Linked DNA regions of Homo sapiens: region 1 is linked to region 2. The links come from fine-mapping of genetic effects on gene expression. A gene starts in region 2. The other region holds a variant in brackets. All regions are shown on one strand. Distances are between the middles of the regions.

Region 1 (4,381 bases), 28 kb after region 2:
TGGAAGGAGGAGAGAGAGTCTGAGAACTTTCATAACTGAGAAAGAGTGGTCCACAGTGCAAGGGCCCTGACTGACCCCAGCCTGGATGAAGACCCCACTGCCTGCATGTAGGGTGGCTTTTAGCATCCAAATAAATAGTGATAGTCATGGGTCATCACTCGAGTAAAATAAAATCTATGAGTCTATATACCTATCTCCATATATTTCATGTTATTTATTTATGTTAAATAAATGCATAGAGAGAAGTAAAGCATGGGAGGAATGATGGGGTCAGAGTCATGAGCGGGTGCTCAGACTAGTTTCAGAGCATCCCTGTAAACCATGCAGCCATTGCAGACGTAAGTCGTAGCTGTGGTGGGAAAGCTGGCAGGTGCCTCCTTAACCCAGCGATCCATCTTCACATCATCAGGCTCGGGACAGACCTCCCCTTTGAGCCTCCTGATGCAGTGAGCAGGTCTGTGGTGTTCTTCCAACAGTTCATAGCCTGACTCTACTCATGAGAAAACAGCAGACACTCATGGAGAGACAGCCTACGTTAATACCTGACCCACAAGCTCCAAAAACGTCAAGGTGAAGAAAAACACAGACAGGCTGAGAAGCTGCTCCGTCTTTTTTTTTTTTTTTTTTTTTTGAGATGGAGTCTTCCTCTGTTGCCCAGACTGGAGTGCAATGGCGCGATCTTGGCTCACCGCAACCTCCGCTTCCTGGGTTCAAGTGATTCTCTTGCCTCAGCCTCCTGAGTAGCTGGGACTACGGGCACCCACCACCATGCCTGGCTGATTTTTGTATTTTTAGTAGAGATGGGGTTTTGCCATGTTGGCCAGGCTGAGCCCGAACTCCTGACCTCAGGTGACCTGCCCGCCTTGGCCTCCCAAAGTGCTGGGATTACAGGCGTGAGCCACCGCGCCCGGCCTGCTGCAGTCTTAATGGGGACAAAAGCCGAAGAGCAAGGCAGCTGCATGCTCCACAGTCTTGGGCTGGATCCTGCATCAGAAAAAAATGTAGGCTGGGCATGGTGACTCACGCCTGTAATCCCAGCACTTTGGGAGGCCGAGGCGGGTGAATCACCTGAGGTCAGGAGTTCGAGACCAGCGCAGCCAACATGGTGAAACCCCATCTCTGCGACAAATACAAAAAAATTGGCCAGGCATGGTGGCATGTGCCTGTACTCCCAGCTACTCGGGAGGCTGAGGCAAGAGAATCTCTTGAACCCGGGAGGCGGAGGTTGCAGTGAGCCCAAGATTGCACCAGTGCACTCCAGCCTGGACGACAGAGTGAGACTCCATCTCAAAAAAAAAAATTTTTTTTTTGCAATAAAGGCTATCATTGGAACAATTCATGAATTTGACTATGGACAATGGATTAGAGAATAATGTATGAATGATAATTTCCTGATGCGAGTTGTTCTGTGGCTGCGTAAGAGAAGCTTGTTCTTAGGAAATATACACAAGTGTTGAGGGCCCAGGGGCCCGACGTCTCTGCTTCACTCTCAGTAGCTGCACGTGCACAGGTCTAGGCGGGGGCAAGGGGGCAGACGGGAGCAGGCAGTGAGTCCGGAACGCACGTGTGAGAGCTCCCTGGACTATCCTGGCAATTACCCTGTGAGTTTGAAATTGTATTAGAATTAGAAGTTGGAAACACGAAAGAAATGTACCATAGGTGACATCATAATGAAATTCCAGAAGGACGGGGACAGAGAAGATCCTCAGTCTAGCCAGGAGGAGAGACGGATCGCTCAGTAGCAAGAATCCCGCCGGCCGTGAGCTCCCGAAAGCAGCGCAGGAGCAGAGGTGGCAGCGCCAGAGCCTCACTGTGTGGCGAGTGACGACACCGTGAGGTCGTCTTTGAAATTATGCTGGAAGAAAGACGTTTCCAGAAAAAGACACGAGTTTGCCACCAGCAGATCATGATGGAAGGATGTTCTAAATATGCATTGCAGGCGGAGATAGGAGGCCTCCAGATGGAAGCGCTGTGCTGTGAGGAGGTGTGAAGAGTCGGGGAAACGTGGGTCACCCGACCAGTCCTGTCTATTCAGCATCGAGAGAGACGCCCTGGAGGGCCTCAGAGATGAGAGCAGGGCCACGTGGCTGTGGTCTGGAGGGTCAGGAGCGGGCCGAGTTAGCTCCGGGGGGTCAGGAGCGGCCACGTTAGCTCCGGGGGGTCAGGAGCGGGCCGCGTTAG[C/T]GCTGGAGGGTCAGGAGCGGCTGCGTTAGCTCTGGGGGGTCAGGAGTGGCCGCGTTAGCTCTGGGCTCTGGCAGCTCTGGTAAGCGTGACATGCTGAAGCTCCTGGAGCCACTCATGAGAGTACAGCATGTAGCTTCCTAGCTGGGAGAGGAAAACCTGGGGTGAGAAGAGTAACAAAGGTGAAAGCAAGAAAGGAAAGAGGCAGGCCTAGGAGGGGCAGGGAGGTGAGGCTGGCTGAGCCCAGAGCCCTAGGTAGGATCAGGCCCTTTGGGTGCAGTTGAGTTTCCTAGGTGTGAGCCACGTTGGGTAGAAGTGATGGCCGGAAGCAGCCTCAGTCACAGCCAGTGCAGCCTTCCTGCCAGGCTCCGACAGTGGCCAGAGAATCTTCTGGATTCCACCTTCTGGACTTCTATGGGATCTCCCTGATCAGCCGCATGAGGGAGAGCCAGAGACTGGCTGGGCTTAGTGTTCCCGTCTGTGGCACAGGGGTCATGAGAGGGTGGGCTCAGGGATTGGGAACATCACTTCCTTCAGCAAGCTAGACTTGGGCACGGCCCGGGGGTGGAGGCGGCCCCCGTACTCGGGCCTCCTGGGTCCAGCTGCAGAGACCTCGTGACTCCTCCATCCCCAGCCTGCTTGTTTTCTAAGTAAATGCAGTTTTATTCCAGTTTTTGGTTTCAATAATTGCTTGTGTAACAAGATTGAACAGGATATTTTACCTTCTCAGTTTCTCTGAGCTCCCACATGGGTGAAATTAGCAAGCAGGAGGGTTCCCCTGGCTTAGAAACAGATGAGTGTGTGTGTGTGTGTGTGTGTGTGTGTGTCAGAGTGAGAGCAGGTGCCGGTGTTTGCTGCACGGGGCAAGGTGGTGTCAGGAGGGACCTGAGGAAGGTGGCGTTCACAGCTCCACCCATGTGCTGGCATCTGTTGCCATCTGCGATGTAACGTATGCAATAACGTGTATTTATAAAATACATTGCACAGAAGCAGTTTGCTTAGTCTGCCTGGAGGAAGAGAAGGCCACACACCTTCTACCTGGTGTGGTCAGCCCAGCCCTGTCTAGCCCCAGGCACACAGCAGCTCTGCCCCCTCAGGGCTGGAGGAGACACCACTCCCCACTGCAGCCACCGTGCCTGTGGGTCATGTCCTTGTTTTACCTGAATGCTCTGTAGGAGGCCTGCACCGGTCAGAGCCGTGCCGTGGCGCTTTTCCTGCCTTGCGCGCCTGACTCAGGGTCGGATGGGAGATGGGGGCACCCTATGTGGTGTCCCGGCCAAGCTTGACCCACATGACTGTGTCCCCCACAGTACGACGAGCATGTAATCAGCCCAAAGGAATTTGTGCACCTGGCCGGGAAGTCCACCCTGAAGGACTGGAAGAGAGCCATCCGCATGAACGGCATCATGCTCAGGTGGGCGCTGGCGCAGGGTCAGCCTCCCTGCTGGAAGGGGCCCTGGCAGCTCTTGCTTTCTTGTGGGGTTTTGGGATTTTGAAGATGAGGCGTATTTTAGATGTGGTGAGTGCTGACAACCTCCCGGGTGGCTGCTGCACCTGCTCACACCCAAAACTGTAAACCCGTCTCCCACACTCCTGCCAACAGGGACACTATCAGATTTTTAGAATTGTTTTGTCAGTCATTTTAATTTCCACCAATTCTTTACCTGAAGGCACTTGTGACTGTTTCAGCGTTGTAAAATAAAGGGTTGGCTGGGCACATGGCTCACACCTGCAATCCCAACACTTTAGGAGGCTGAGGCAGGAGGATCACTTGACGCCAAGAGTTTGAGACCAGCCTGGGCACAATAATGAGACCTCATCTCTACTAAAAATAAAAAAAAAATTATCTGGATTTGGTGACATATGCCTGTGGTCCCAGCTGCTCGAGAGGCTAAGGTGGAAGGATCACTGGAGCCTGGAAGTCAAGGCTGCAGTGAGCTGTGATTGTGCCACTGCAATACAGCTTGGGTTACAGAGTGAGACTCTGTCTCAAAAAAAAAAAAAAACAAGAATAAAAAGGAAAAGAAAAGGGTCTGTTCCAATTATGCATTCTGAAAATAAAAAATAAAAGAAAGGTATAATCTGGTATTTGTGCATCAGATTTTGGCCTTTTATGTTACTCCTTATTTCTGTCCTTTCTTTCACTTTTTTTTTGAGAGGGAGTCTTGCTCTGTTGCCCAGGCTGGAGTGCAGTGGCATGATC
Region 2 (4,381 bases):
CGCCAGGCTAATTTTTTGTATTTTTAGTAGAGAGGGGGTTTCACAGTGTTAGCCAGGATGGTCTCTATCTCCTGACCTCGTGATCTGCCCGCCTTGGCCTCACAAAGTGCTGGGATTATAGGCGTGAGCCACCGTGCCGGACACATTTGCATTTTTTAAAAAGAGACAGTTCTGGCCATGTTGGTCTCGAACTCCTGGCCTCAAGCAATCCTGCCTTGGCCTCCCAAAGTGCTAGGATTATGGGCGTGAGCCTCCGCACTCAGCCTAAATTTGCATTTTTAAGCGACTAAGTTTGAGATAATTTGTTATGCCAGCAGAAGAAAGCTAAGTTATCTTGGAGGTGATTTTTCTTTTTTTTTAGATGGAGTTTCTCTCTTGTTGCCCAGTTTGTCTCTTGGAGCCCCAGAGTGAAGGAGGCAGAACAGGCCCCAGGGCTCACCCCAGGCCGACCTCGGTGGGCTTGCGCAACACACAGGCATGATGTAGCCACCCTCCCATCCCCAGGCCCCCCTCAGCACTCCTCTTCGACTTTATTGACATTTATTTCCAAAACGTGACGATAGGCAAACTCAGATAAATGACACACATAGACCGCGTGAACCCTCTCATATTTACCAGATAATAAAATAGTAGCACTGACAAAGGCTCAATTTTTTTTTTTATTCTTCCCCAGAGACAGGCTCTGTTGCCCAGGCTGGTCTTGAACTCCTGGCCACAGGTGATCCTCCCACCTTTGTCTCCCAAAGTGTTGAGGTAAAAGGCATGAGCCACCGCACTCGGCCAATCTAATTTTTAAAAACACCTTTTCCTCACTGGCTGGAGCACGTTCTACTTTACTGGGAACTGAATGAATGTGCAACTCTAATTACAGCCCCTCCGAAGTGCAGTGGCTTGGGAACCTCCCGTTCCGGGAGGCGGCCTGCAGAGCCCTCCTCCTACAAGTGTGAGCACAGGGTCAGGGTTCCATCCAAGCGAGCACCTGCTTCCTATTTTCCGACTAATTTCGGTCCCCTGATACGGAATCCGGGATCCTGCAGACAGGCAGCGGGTGACAGCAAGCACAAGGGTGTTCGATGACACCTGGAGAGGTCAGGAGAGCCAGTCCTGCGGTGCAGAGGAAGAAACCCAGCACAGAGGCCAACAGAGCCAGCCCCAGCCTCTGCCAATAAAACATATAAATGAGCCCTGGGGGCTGGAGGAGGGCCACAGGATCCAAGCTGGCTGCCGGATCCGAGTGGGATCGGGGTGCCGACTGTGGGACATGGGTGGGATGGGGTGCCGGCTGCGGGACTCGGGTGGGATCGGGGTGCGGGCTATAGGACTGGGGCGGGATCGGGGTGTCATCTATGGGATCGAGGTGCTGGCTATGGGACTGGGGTGGGATCGGGGTGCTGGCTATGGGACTGGGGTGGGATCGGGGTATCAGCTATGCTATGCGATCGGGGTGAGTGCCGGCTGTGGGATCGGGGTGCCGGCTGCGGGACTGGGGTGGGATCGGGGTGCCGGCTGTGGGACAGCGGTGGGATCGGGGTGGGTGCCAGCTGTTGGGCTGGGGTGGGATCGGGGTGCCAGCTGCGGGACTGGGGTGGGATCGGGGTGCCGGCCGTGGGACAGCGGTGGGACCGGGGTGTTAGCTATGGGATTGGGGTGGGTGCCGGCTGTTGGGCAGGGGTGGGATCGGGGTGTCGGCTGTGGGACTGCGATAGGATCGGGGTGCTGGTTGTGGGACTGGGGTGACAGCTTGAGGGGTGACCGAGCCCTCCCGGCCGCTCCCGGATGCCCCTCGCCCTCCACGCTGGGAGCGCCGTGGCTGGCTGAGCCTCTGGCATGTTCCGCGTGAGTCCGCGCACCCTACAGCGTCCTCCTCCACAGCCTCGTGTTCAGGCGTCCGCCCCGCAGGGGAGTCCCCTCGCGCCCATTCACACACAGCAGCGTCCGGGCGAGGAGCGCCCGTACCTGGAGGCCTGAAGGTACCGCCCTGCCGCGCGTGGGCACTGCTCCCTGGCGCCGTCCGTCCACTGACCATCGTCCCTCGGCCCGGCCGCCCGCGCGGGGCAGGCAACGCCCGACCGGGGGCCTCGGGGACCAGGAGGAACCTGCGGCGTTAGGAGCTGACAGTGTCGGTCCGCGCACGCGCCCCGGGGCCCGTCGGGCCTTATTTCACGGCCCCGCCTTCCTCCTCCGCGAGCGCCAAATAAGTGTCCGGCCCTCCCAGCCCCGTGCGTGCGCGGCCCCGCCGCCTGCGTCACTAGGAAGCGCGCGCCCGCGCCGCCGCCGCCGCCGAATCCCCAACAAGGAGCGAAGCCCGCGGCCGCCGCCGCCGCCCGCCGCCGCCGCAGCTCCCGACGCCGCCGCCCCCGCCGGGTGCCTAAGCAGGCCCGGCGCGGCCCCAGGTAAGCGGCGCCGGCGAGCCCGCGGCCCCCCCGCGGCGAGGCCTCTCGCTCCGCTCACGCGCCGCCGTCCAGTCAGGGGTCCCTGCGGAGCGTCAGGACGTTACGGCGGGGGGAGGGGAGGGCCGGGGGAGGGGCGGCCGCGCGGGCGGCGGCGTCAGGCGCAACGGCGGCGTCAGGCGGGCGGCGCGGGCGGTGGCGGGCGCGGGCGGCGGCGCTTCCTGCCTCCATCTTGGCGCCGCGGGCGGGCGCGGGCTCGGCCTCCAGCGGCCTCCTCGGTGGACCCATCCCGGGGGGACCACGCCGCAGGGGTGCGACCCGCAGGGACCACCCCGCAGGCACCCGACCCGCAGGGACGCGACCCACAGGGACCACCCCGCAGGCACCCGACCCGCAGGGGCCACCACGCGACCCGCAGGGGCCACCCCACAGGGACGCGACCCACAGGGACCACCCCACAGGGACGCGACCCACAAGGACCACCCCGCAGGCACCCGACCCGCAGGGACGCGATCCCCAGGGGCCACCCCGCAGGCACCCGACCCGCAGGGACGCGATCCCCAGGGGCCACCCCGCAGGCACCCGACCCGCAGGGACGCGATTCCCAGGGGCCACCCCGCAGGCACCCGACCCGCAGGGACGCGACCCATAGGGACCACCCCGCAGGCACCCGACCCGCAGGGGCCACCCGGCAGGCACCCAACTCGCAGGGACGCGACCCGCAGGGATCACCCCACTGGGACCCACTCTCAGGGACCTGACCTGCAGGGACCACCCCACAGGGGCCCGCGTCACTGTAGGCTCACAGGCGGGACCTGGATCTGTGTAGACCCATGGTGGTGTGGACCCTGTTGGTCGGAGCTGATTTGTTGTGGGCCCGTCGTCAGTCATGGCATGTTATCTATTTGGTTACTGTGTAATTCATGCGTGACTGAAAAGTCGTGACTGACTTTTCTGTTGAACCAGAATTCTCTTTCTTTGCTAACACTTCAAATACAACAGTTTCAATTACATCAGTGTTGACCGTGCCGGTCAAGAATACTAGTTTAAAAATATTTTCTTGGGCCAGGTGTGATGGCTCACACCTGTAATCCCACCACTTTGGGAGCCCGACGTGGGCGGATCATGAGGTCAGGAGTTTGAGAGCAGCCTGGCTAACACGGTGAAACCCTGTCTCTACTAAAAATACAAAAGTTAGCCGGGCGTGGTGGTGTGCACTTGTAATCCCAGCTAGTTGGGAGGCTGAGGCAGGAGAATTGCTTGAACCCAGAAGGCAGAGGTTGCAGTGAGTGGAGATGGTGCCATTGCACTCCAGCCTGGGTGACGGAGCAAGATTGCGTCTCAAAAAAAAAAAAGTAAAATAAAATATTTTCTCATATCTGATTTACCTAATAATTTGGAAACTCACTTCACACTAGTGGGGAACCCAAGCCTTGGGATCAAAGCTGGGTGGGTCTTGGCTTCAACACAGAAGGGGCTGTGGAGAGGCCAGGTGTAGTGGCTCACACCTATAATCCCAGCACTATGGGAGGTCAAGGTGGGAGGATCACTGGAGGTCAGGAGTTCGAGACCAGCCTGGCCAACATGATGAAACCCCGTCTCTACCAAAAATGCAAAAATTAGCTAGGCGTGTTGGGTGCCTGTAGTCCCAGCTACTCGGGAGGCTGAGGCAGGAGAATCACTTCAACCCGGGAGGCGGAGGTTGCAGTGAGCCAAGATTTTGCCATTGCACTCCAGCCTGGGTGACAGAGCGAGACTCCATCTCAAAAAAACAAAGAAGGAGCTGTGGAGAGAGGAGGGGGTGCTCGCCCTTGGGAAGGCAATAGGGCGAGGTGCTCTATTCTATAGTGCTTCTTCTGTGTCTAAAGAGCATTGTATCAAGGACTTGCACTATTTTCTGTGAGGTAACTTTTGTGCATATTGCTTTGAACCTTTAATATAGTTGCCATTGGAGGCCAGGCTCAGTGGCTCACGCCTGTAATCCCAGCACT

What was found. PIP is the estimated chance that this variant, and not a neighbour inherited with it, causes the effect.
Region 1: its variant is the best candidate, but not a certain one, in a credible set for the expression of MHENCR in blood mononuclear cells (TOPMed, PIP 0.64).

What each region holds. Positions count from the first base shown.
Region 1 is chr20:63,596,968-63,601,348 of GRCh38, reverse strand. GMEB2 (glucocorticoid modulatory element binding protein 2) reads left to right here. Exons shown (of 10, transcript NM_012384.5): 5 at 3,489-3,592. Among named protein-coding and RNA genes, the nearest start is that of HELZ2, 25 kb to the right of the region's middle. RefSeq lists an enhancer at 3,374-3,543. The variant C/T (reference allele first, on the strand shown) is at 2,182.
Region 2 is chr20:63,624,968-63,629,348 of GRCh38, reverse strand. MHENCR (melanoma highly expressed competing endogenous lncRNA for miR-425 and miR-489) reads right to left here and starts at 2,114. Exons shown (of 2, transcript NR_132417.1): 1 at 1,957-2,114; 2 at 525-1,159. GMEB2 (glucocorticoid modulatory element binding protein 2) reads left to right here and starts at 2,248. Exons shown (of 10, transcript NM_012384.5): 1 at 2,248-2,393. RefSeq lists silencers at 1,807-2,256, 2,347-2,886.